Linked DNA regions of Homo sapiens: region 1 is linked to region 2. The links come from fine-mapping of genetic effects on gene expression. A gene starts in region 2. The other region holds a variant in brackets. All regions are shown on one strand. Distances are from middle to middle.

Region 1 (5,386 bases), 51 kb before region 2:
CAGCAATTCCACTTCTGGATATATACCCAAAAGTATTGAAAGTGAGATCTCTATGAAATATTTGCACATCATGTTCATTGTAGCATTATTCACAATAGCCAAGAGGCAGAAGCGACTCAAATGCCCATGTATGGATGAAGAAAATGTGGTATAAACACATCGTAAAATATTATTCAGCCTTAAAAAATAAGGAAATTCTGTCACATGCAACGACAGGAGTGAACCTGGACAGCGTGAAGCTAAGTGAAATAAGCCATCACAAAAAGAAAAATACTGTATGGTTCCGCTTAGATGAGGTATTGAAAGTAGTCAAACTCATAGAAACAGAAAGTAGGATGGTGGTTGCCAGGGATGGGAAAGGAGAAATGGGGAGATGATGTTCAGTGGGTATAGAGTTTCAGTGTTGCAAGAGGAAAAAGTTCTAGGGCTCTGTTGCACAACAATGTTAATTTTCTTAGCACTACTGAATTGTACACATAAAAATGGTTAGGATGGTAAATTTTATCTTAATGTATTTGTACCACAATTAAAAATAAAAATTAAAAAATTGTATATGTAACTAAAAAACCTTCCCAGAAAGAAAACTCCAGGTCCAAATGTCTTCACTGATGAATTCCAGCAAACATTTAGGAAGAACTAATATTGAGAGTACACAAACTTTTTCGGAAAATAGAGCAGTAGGGAACATTACCCAACTAATATTATAAGGCTTGCATTACCCTGATACTAAAACCAGACAAAAGCATCACATGAAAAGGAAACTACAGACTATATTCCCCGTGACCATAAACTGAAAATCCATAATTTAAAAAAGTACTTAATGAAATATTAGCAAATTAAATTCTGCAACTTACACAAAGAGTAATACATCAAAGCCAAATGAGATTTATGCAAAGAATGCGCTGTTGGCATAACATCTGAAAAATTTGTCAATGAAATTCACCAGTTTAGACAAAAAAGGAGAAAACCCTTCTGATGATCTCAGTAAATGCAGAGAAAGCATTTGACAAAATTCAAAACACATTCATAGTAAAAACTTAGCAAACTAGGAGTGGAAGCTTCCTCAACGTAATAAATAGCATCCAGGAAAAACCTACAGCCAAAATTATATTCAATGGTGAAAGATAATACTTCCCCTCTGAAAAATCAGAACAAGGCAAAGAATGCCTGCTCTCTGCATTTATATGTAACATTGTACTGAAAGCCTTAGTGCAATAAAGCAATGAAATGAAATAAAAGTCATAAGATTAGGGAAGAAGTAAAGTTGTTTTTATTTGCAGACAACCTGATCATTAAGTAGAAAATCCTAAGGAATATATTAAAAAATGCTAAAATTAATTGAACTTATCAGAGGTGTAGGACACAAAGTCATTATAGAAAAGCATTTTTAAAATAGATGAACAGTTTTTTTAATTCATCCTCCTCCTTTACTTCCTCCTCGTCTTCTTCATCTTCCTCTTCCACTTGTTTTTGGGCAACTTTAGCAGGACCTTTTGCACCATCAAGCTTTCTAGACTTGTAGTCAGCAACATCCTTCTCATACTTCTCTTTCAGCTTTGCTGCCTTGGTGATTGATATGGTTTGGCTCTGTGACCCCAACTCAATCTCACCTGGAATTGTAATCCTGATAATCCCCACGTGTCAAGGGTGGGACCAGGTGGAGGTAATTGGATCATGGGGGCGGTTGCTGTTCTTGTGATAGTGAGTTCTCATGAGATCTGATGGTTTTACAGGTGTCTGGCATTTCCCCTTTTGGCACTCACTCCATCTTGCCACCCTGTGAAGAAGGTGCTTGTTTTTCCTTGCCTTCTGCCATGATTGTAAGTTTCCTGAGGCCTCCCCAGCAATGCGGAACTGTGAGTCAATTAAACCTCCTTCCTTTATAAATTACCCCATCTCAGGTTTTTCTTCATAGCAGCATGAGACTGGACTAATGCAGTAAGGTAAGGCTCCTTTTCACTGTCATTTAAGTTATTCCACATCTCATCCAGCTTTTTTGCCACATCTTCAATAGAGATGTCAGGCTTTGTGAATTTGATCTTGGGCAGAATTCTGAACAGAACAGGAGGAATCCAGATGGTGGTCTTTTGTGGGCATTAAGATCCTTCTTCTTGCCTCCCTTAGCTGGTATGTAATCCTTCATTTCC[T/C]GATCATAGCATAATTTATCCGCCTTTGCCATTTCATCAAATTTAGACTTCTCTTTCCCAGACATGGTCTTCCACCTCTCAGAGCACTTCTTGGAAAATTCTGCAAAATTGACAGGGACCACTGGGTTTTTCTTCTTAGGTTCTCTGCGCATCTGCACAAAGAAGGCATAAGTAGATATCTTGCCCTTTGGTTTCTTGGGGTCATGGATCAGCAAACAATATTAGAATGAAAATTCTCTCCAAATTGATCTATAAATTTAATTCCAATCAAAAGCCTAGCAGCCTCATTTGAAGGGGTTTACAGACTGATTCTAAAATTCACATGGGAAGACAAAGAACCTTAAATGGTCAAGACAATATTTAAAAAGACAAAGTAGCAATGAGCATGCCTAGTGCCCAGATTTTGTTTTCTGTATCATTCTCCAATAAAAGCAACAGAAACTCTTGGATAAGTTGCTGATTCCAGAACTGGGGTAAGAAATACATAGGATGAGACTGGGTCATCTTGTAGTGCCAGAAAGTAAGGAAAAAACAAAGCAAAATCACTTACAGGGATATGTCAAAGGGGCACAGGAGCCTACTGAATGAGCTTTCAACAGCCAAAGCTGGACCAACTTGAGCAGCAAGTTGTGTTGGATTATAACCCATGGTTTGTACCCTGGTACAAAATACATACTCAGCAATTTTCAGAACTGTCAAGGTCATCCAAATACGAGGAAAGTCTGAAAAAGAGTCACAGCCAAGCAGAGCAAAAGGAGACATGACAACTAAAAGTACCATGGTTTTCTTTTTGGGATTTTGGAACAGAAAAAGGACATTAGCTAAAGACTAAGGGAATCTGAATAAAGTTTGAGACTTTAGTTAATAATATTGTATCACTACTGGATTGTTAATTGTAACAGATGTACAATGCTAATGTAAGAAGTTAAAATAGGAAAATCTGGGTACAGGGTATGTGGTAATTTTGTGCTGTCTTCTCAATTTTTCTGTTAATCTAAAACTGTTTTTAAAGTGTATTAAAAAAACAAGATAAGATTGGAGGACCTAACCCGACTCGATTCCAATATTTATTATAAAACTACAATATTAACCAGTATAAATAAAGTGTGCAGTATTCATGAGAGATATGCAGATGAATGGAATAGAGCAGAGACTCCATATGTAGGATCTCACTTCTAGGACCAACTAATTAACAGACGGGTCCAGGTAATTCAATGTGAAAAATAATAGTGTTTCAACAAATAGAGCTGGACCAACTGAATGTCTCTGGGAAAAAAATACCCTGAACTATTATTTCACTTACCCTTCCCCAAACTTTTCCTTTACTTACTTCTACTCCACTTAACTTGAAATGCCCCATTGACCTAAAATGAGCACTAAACATACAAAACACCAAGATATGAAATGATAAGGGTATATGGTGTCTACCTTCATGTGTGACACCTCAGCCAGACTTGATGATGGGCAGGACACCTGGTTCTTTTAATTCGCTGACAAATTGAGTCCTCACATGACTGTGTTAGACAGGTGACATGTACCTCATTTTATAGATAAGGATACAGGCTCAGGTAAGTTGTTTGTTGCCCAGGGTTATACAGCTAGTGTGGCAGACACTGTTGGTGCCTGTGTCATTTCCCCATGGTCCATTTTTGCAGCACCATAGCTGCAGTGGACAGTTCCAAGTGAGTTCAGACTTACCATCCTTCTAGAGGCATGTTCCGTGCTTCTTTCTTCTTTTCACTCTGGGCACTAAGGCAACCTGTGTGACTCTCATGCAAGTGCAATCCAGAAGTGTGGGGGAATTTATGCTCCCTCATTCAATGAGGGACCTGAGCTGGTGGATAAATGCCCTAAAGTTCTCTCCTTCAGACAGACAATGTTAGCTGCTTTCTGTACACTCTTTTTGAGATTATAGTAAAATTCAGTCTCTGGTGCCTAAAGCATTGACTTCTATTACATACCATTATATTTACCATTCTTTCCTGTGCTTTTCTTCCTACTCCTGGGATCACTTCTCAAACTACTGTACCCAAGTCCTAATTTCAGGCTGTACTTCTTGTTGGAACCAAGAGTGGCTCTACAGAGCAGATGCTCTGAATGGGACTCTGGAACTGGACAGTCCACTCACTGGTCAGAGGGCAATGAGGACTGTGTGATAAGTTAATGGTAACAACCTTTGGCTGTCTGTACTATTATAGTTACTAAGAAGCTGAGACTGGGTAATCTTGTAATGCCAGAAAGTAAGGAAGTAACTAAGCAAAATCACTTATATGGATAAGTCAAAGGGGCACAGGAGCCAACTGAATGAGCTTTTAATAGCCAAACCTGGACCAATATGAGCAGCAAATTGTGTTCAGTTATAACCCATGGTTTGTACTCAGGTACAAAATACCTGCTAAGTAGGTCTCGATTGCTGGAAAGGCTGTAGTTACATAGCAGAAGGTGAACAGAAGGCAGTACCTTGTCTCTGTACTATTATAGTTACTAAGACTCTCCCTTATACTGGATTGAGATGAGGTACAGGTAAAAAGGGAAGAGGTAGGTTATAAAGTAGCTCTGCACTTGACTAGTATGGGGCAAAATATTATCATGTACTGACATGTGCTGTGAAGTTGGCTGCTTTTTGATAATTGCCTTAGAATCTTTGAAGAAAAAGAATTAGGCTCAGACCAGCCAACTATTTCGGGGCATTCCAGAAAGCCAGGCAGGCATCATGGCAATGTTTAAAGAGAACTATGTCTGCTGTAGACAGAAGGCAAACTGTGTGAAAATAAAACCCATGCTTCAATCCTAAGGGTGGCAGGGCAACAAAGGAACGTGCAGGTTTGAGAGGTCACTTATGCTAAACTTAGAGCCATGAAAGGGAAGGAGTCCCTGGACCTGGAATAGGGATATTTGTTGAAAGTAATTTACTTCAAAAATTTGAACCTCCAGGTTTCCCAGAACATTTCAGGCCACCAGAAGTAGCTCTCTCCCGCTAGAGAACAGCTGCCCCTTGCAAAACCACTCAGCTGGAATGGAGGCTTTGCAGGTTAATGCATGTCCTCCTCAGAATCATCTGCTTCTCTGACCTCTCATTACCTTCAGACCAATAATTAAGATAAAGTCTGATCATACATAGTCCCAGCAGGGAAATTCAGTTTCTGTCCTGGGAGGAAACAGACTCTCATGGAAAGACTTGGATGAGCTGGATAATATATACTGGCATGATTCAGGGGAAGGTGTGTAGGAGTGGATCT
Region 2 (5,386 bases):
TACTGACTTGAAAAGGGCCTCAAGAGACATTTTAAAGATCAAACATAATAGTTAATTAATTTTAAGCAGCCCTGTGTTTAAATTATAGTTGAAAACTGAACTTCTAGGCAAAGGGGTACTTTGACCATTAATTTAGTAAGGGAAGAGTTGGTGCATGGATAAAGTATTAAGGAAGAACATGAAAGTAATTGTGTAAAATAGAATCTATATTTGGTATACCCAAACTGAAGTATCTACCCTTGAACAATTGTTTCTGCATACTTTCATAATTTTGCTCTTATTCTCTTTAAATCTTTGAGAAGACATCTGACTAATCTAAAATTCAATTTACTGATCTGATATGAGAAATGAATGGCATCACGATAGTAATTTAGTTTTCAATTTGAGAGCCTAAGTGTCACATTTCAACTACTTAATGTGTTTAACCTTTTTTTTTTTTTTTTTGAGAAAAAGAAAAAGACTGGCACTTGGATCTTTGTTCTGTCAAATTCTAGGTATATACGTTTATTTTTTCAGTTCTTTGCAGTGAAAAATAATGACTTTTTAGGCACTTGAAACCAGGTAGAATAAATACAACTGTGAAGATTATTTTATTTTATAGCCAGCAATTGGAGAAACGAATTTTAATGTAAAAAGCAAATAGATCCTAGAGTGTAAAAGTTTTTTTTTTTTCCTCCAAAGTGAGGTCTATGTGTTGCTATGTCTGGGTGCATTGGGGAATTGCCTTCTGATTTCATTCTTGAAGTATACAAAAAATTATTTCAGTGTAGGTAAGTACTAGGAAAAAGCTAAAATGAGAAGATACTCTCTGAGTTTTAGTCTAGGTTGGAGATTCTGAGGCTTAAGCATTTCCAAAAATGAAATAATTCTTGCAAACTCTCTGCATACTCTGTGATTTTATTTTCCTAGGGGGAAAGAGACTAGCTGAGGTGGCTTCCTGGGCAAGGCAAGGGCGAGGGCGAGGAAAGCTGGCGTGTCCCAGGGCGTCCAAGAGGGAGGAGAGTGGATGTGTTGTTTCCATGGACACACCACTGCTCCACTTTTCCTCTAGGTGGTGACAAATGTGACTGGATTTAGCCTGGTGAGGTGTAGGCTGGTTTATGAGAAATTTGTTCCCATAAACTTTTTCCAGTTTTTTCCCTACAACCTTTATACAAGTATATTACTTCCAAGCTAGAATTACTTTGTGATCTTACTTGGGAGATTTGTTTAATCCTTTCTAATGGGATATATTTAGGCTGATGGAATAATCCAAAAATTTTTTTAATCATCAAAAAAGCATACATCTGCATATTCAGGAAGCTACTTACTCTCTTGATGGCTTTTAAGACATTATGAGGATTTTCTGTCTCTATTTGCGTTTGGAACCTTCAGTGACTAAGATTCCTAGCCTTAGAAATAACTGTATACAGCCATATCTTTGGAACATGTGTGGCTTTGGTAAGAGTTATAAGGTACACTGGAGGGAAAAAGGGCTTGAGCGAGGGTGTCCCCCAACTGAAAGAGGCAAATTCAGAACAAGGGTCTACTTGTCTATTTCAATTAGCTAATTAGGAGATATAAGCATTAGAAATAGTGGAGCCTGTGACCACACAACTCACGCAGTCTAATAAAGTAACCTTTAGACAACAGCTGTAATGTAAAAGGCCCATGCCAAAAACAACAGAGCAGAGCCGAGTTCCTGTCCCTTAAAGCAGGACAGCTGAGATGGTGGCTGAGTTTAATGACAAAAAAGGACAAAACAAAACAAACAATAATCCCGACCAAGGTTTTCTGAAGAGAGGAAAATGTAATAATTAGAAGCTAGACATTTAACAAAGCATTGTTTTATGGAAAAGTGCCAACCTTATCAATAGACTTCTGGTGTCTTACTATTGGCTAAGAAGACATTTCAATTTACTGAATGTTTCCTGGGTGAAACTAAGATATTGTATCAATTAGTAAAAAATCTAAATTAGGATTAGCATAATTAGTTATGCAATGAAAATTTTAAGAACAACAACAAAAAATCCCTGATCTAGCATCAGTTTTTAAAAAGTACTCATTTTTTTCCTATACCTAATGTCAGTGGCAGAAAATGCTGAGAAATTGGGATATTGCTTTCCAAAGATCTTTTTCTTCTTAAAACAATTACATCAAAAGTTATAGCTAGGGATAAATGATTGTGACACAGATTTCCAAGTTACTGCCAAATACAGGGTTTTATAAAATTAAAAAGAAAGCTGGATCATTTAAGAAAAGTAATTTATTTCTGGCTTTGACTTTTTCCCGGAACAAACATAAAAAATGTACGATTTTCCTTCTCGGTATTAACAAAATATTTTCCAAATCCACTGCATGCACTGCATTCCTTTATCAGGATCTTATTCAGTTTGTGACTCTGCTGGAAACTGATATCTTAGAATTAATCTGATACGTGCTTTTACCTAGTTTTCTCTTGTTTAATGCTTAAATTACGTATATTAACATTCATTTTAATTATTTTAGGCTTTCTGGAACATGCTACCACACTACAAATATAAAGTTTCAGGTCATTTTTAAAATTTCTTTTTCTCTCTTTAAAAAAAATTCTAACTTTTTGAGGCATTCATAGCTTAAAAAAGTTTCCAAGTTGGGGATCTGTTTTTTTATCTAATGCCAGTCAAATGGACATTTAAGGAAAAACTGCATTTCTAAGGTACACCACAGAGTGTGAAAGATAGTTAATCAGACTGCCTTAACAGCTTTTGATTGTTGTTTAAAATGCAGGCACAGCCTTTTTGAAAATCAAGAACGTTTGCCCTGCACTCAGGTTCTGAAGCCCCAGAGTTACAGAGGGTCATGAGGGTTAAGAGAGAAACAGAGACTCGTCCATGAAGGCTGACAGTTCTGTTTTTCCACTTGCGAGGGCTCAGCGACAGGGGCAGCCGGCCACGGTCTGCCTTCCTCTAAGTAACAACGTTAATGAGTTATAACTGTATGCAGACTTACTGTGATGGCCTGGAGTCTTCCCTTCACCAGCTCAGCTTCTTCCATTCTAGAAGTCAAGGACAGTCAGACGGGGAAGCAAGTCCAAAGCTACCATAAATCAAGGAGCCTCCTGGGGGAGAGGAGCGGGGGTGACAGAAGAGAAGCAGGGAGAAATCCGCTCTTTGCACCAGTGGAGAAATAGAGAAATTCCCGACTTGTCAGGAGCGTCTCCGAGCAGATGCACAGATCAGGCCAGACAGACACATGTAATGAGGGTGTGCTGGGGAGGCAGACGCTGAGGCTGCTGGCATGAGTTGACTGACAAGTTTGAACGGCAGCGGCACAAGCCCTTTTCCTTCAGGAGCTGCCAGCTCTTTGTTGTAATGTGCACAGTTAGCAAGGCACATTTTCTTATTAACTGTTCCTTACCCAATTCATTATTTTCCAGGAGTGGCACAGAGAGCCAACACACTGAGTGTTTAATCAGCCTCTGCTCTAGCAACACACAGCCATCCCCGGATGTGTTGGTCTGTGTGTGTTTGTACAAAGCTCGTTTACCTGCTTGCTAGCTCTAGGGGAGAGAGCCTTACCTTGACTGAGGCAGAAGTGCCAAGTCACTTGTTTGCCTTTCTTCCACTGATTGGATTTGATAATAATACAACAATCTATAGCTACTTTAAACTTCATGTAGTGGTAAATTTACATTGGTTCGTTCTCCCCCGTCTACACCCCACCCCCGACCCCCCTGCTCAGCACTTTGTTGCAAACTTTGGAATCTTTAGGTCATGGAGAAATCAAAGGTGTTAATGTGACTATATTAAGAAGTTGGCCCACCAAGGTATTTAGTGTGGCTTAAGCACCAAGTGCCACCTTTTGTTATTGCTTGACTTGGATTTCTATGGAATGCAGTTTTCTTTCTTGGACGCTGTTCAGAAATGACACTCTTGGCTTTCAGGAAGGTGCCCATTTTGACCTCACCGGTTACGCAAGAGAGAGGAGTGAGCCTTTGAAAATGTGATGAGACATTTGGTAACTGCCTGGAGCCCGGCACTGTGTGAATATTCGCCCATCCTTTAGAAAAAGGCAGGCAAGCCCAGTGAGACTCTTAGGTCAAAGCAGAGGCTGGGAAGCTGTACAATTGGCTCTGTCTGTTTTCTTTTCCCTACAGGTTCTTTAATTAAATTTTGCTGAAGTAAATCCTAATTACCAACTACCTTATTATTATGTGTTTGAATGCTATTAAGCGCTTTCATATCAACATTCAGCTGAAGAGGTTAAAAGGACAACCCAAACATTGAACATATGGTTTAATTTCCTTTGCAGTTTTGATATTAGTAATAATAATAGCTAATATTTGTTGCATTCTTTCTACAGGTAAATGCATACTTGCAAAGTGCTGAGAGATAAGTGCTATAATCCCTACTTTAAAAATGAGGGAACAGGCTCAGAGAGGTAATTTGCCATATAGCTAGTAAGTAGCAAAGCCAGGATTGGAACACCAGCTGCCTGACTTTATAAGTGGCATTCATCAAGGACTGCCCAAGGACACGGGGCAAGGAGAGGCACAGGCTGAAGGTTAAGTCAGTCTTTATGAGAAGTGGTTGGACCCCCAGCCTCCTTCTCTGTCTAGCTCCTAGAACACTACAGCTGGGTGTAACAGCCTAAGGCAGAACGGTGTGGGAATGTCCTCTGGAGAAACTTATTGGCCCTACTGAGGTTTCCCCACATTGTTGACTGGAGTTCCCCAACCACAGAGCCCTCATTCTGTCAGTCACTATAAGGTGAAACCCATGTTTTAAGAGTCTGAAATTATACTTGAGAGTAGTTTGTCCTTGCTCATACACCCTCAGAAGGGATACTTAGGGAGACCAGAGAATGGGAGGATTGTTTGGATGTGTGCCAAGTTTGATTACTGTTGGAAACATATTTAAGTGTAAAAAAAATCAAACCTTCAAGACTTCTGATTATGTTTATTTGTAGATCCTGGCTGAAATTAAAGACAAGAAAGCAGTAATGATAAATATCTCAGTCAGAATTGCATATTTGGTGCCTAGAACAAATGGGCAGTCATCCAATTATTAGTCTGGATCTTTTCCTAAAAACAATTTACCTCTCAAATCTCATTTCTGCTAGAGGAAAACCCAAGATTTTGCTAGTGTAGGGGAGGACAAGATTTAAAAAAAGAGGATGGGAATTTAGGAGGGAGCAGAGTTGCAACAACTGATTGGTATCATCATGTGAGTGGTAGGCAGAAAAGGCTGGAGCTGGGAAAATCTGGGGGACCTGAGTGGAATCCTGGAGCCAGAGCTCTGATGGTCTTGACAATCTCCCTTGGACTGCAATACAGATTAGGATGTTTCCACTCAACTTCGCCTCCCTTTCTCTTTCACCTGCCTCTTAGACATGTCCAGCTCCAGCCTTTTCTGCCTGTCCTCCC

Evidence for each region. PIP is the estimated chance that this variant, and not a neighbour inherited with it, causes the effect. A credible set is the group of variants that fine-mapping cannot tell apart.
Region 1: its variant is the best candidate, but not a certain one, in a credible set for the expression of PALMD in subcutaneous fat (TwinsUK, PIP 0.54).

What each region holds. Positions count from the first base shown.
Region 1 is chr1:99,695,206-99,700,591 of GRCh38, reverse strand. It overlaps the pseudogene HMGB3P10. Among named protein-coding and RNA genes, the nearest start is that of PALMD, 52 kb to the right of the region's middle. The variant T/C (reference allele first, on the strand shown) is at 2,148.
Region 2 is chr1:99,643,947-99,649,332 of GRCh38, reverse strand. PALMD (palmdelphin) reads right to left here and starts at 3,220. Exons shown (of 8, transcript NM_017734.5): 1 at 2,971-3,220. The coding sequence starts at 3,015.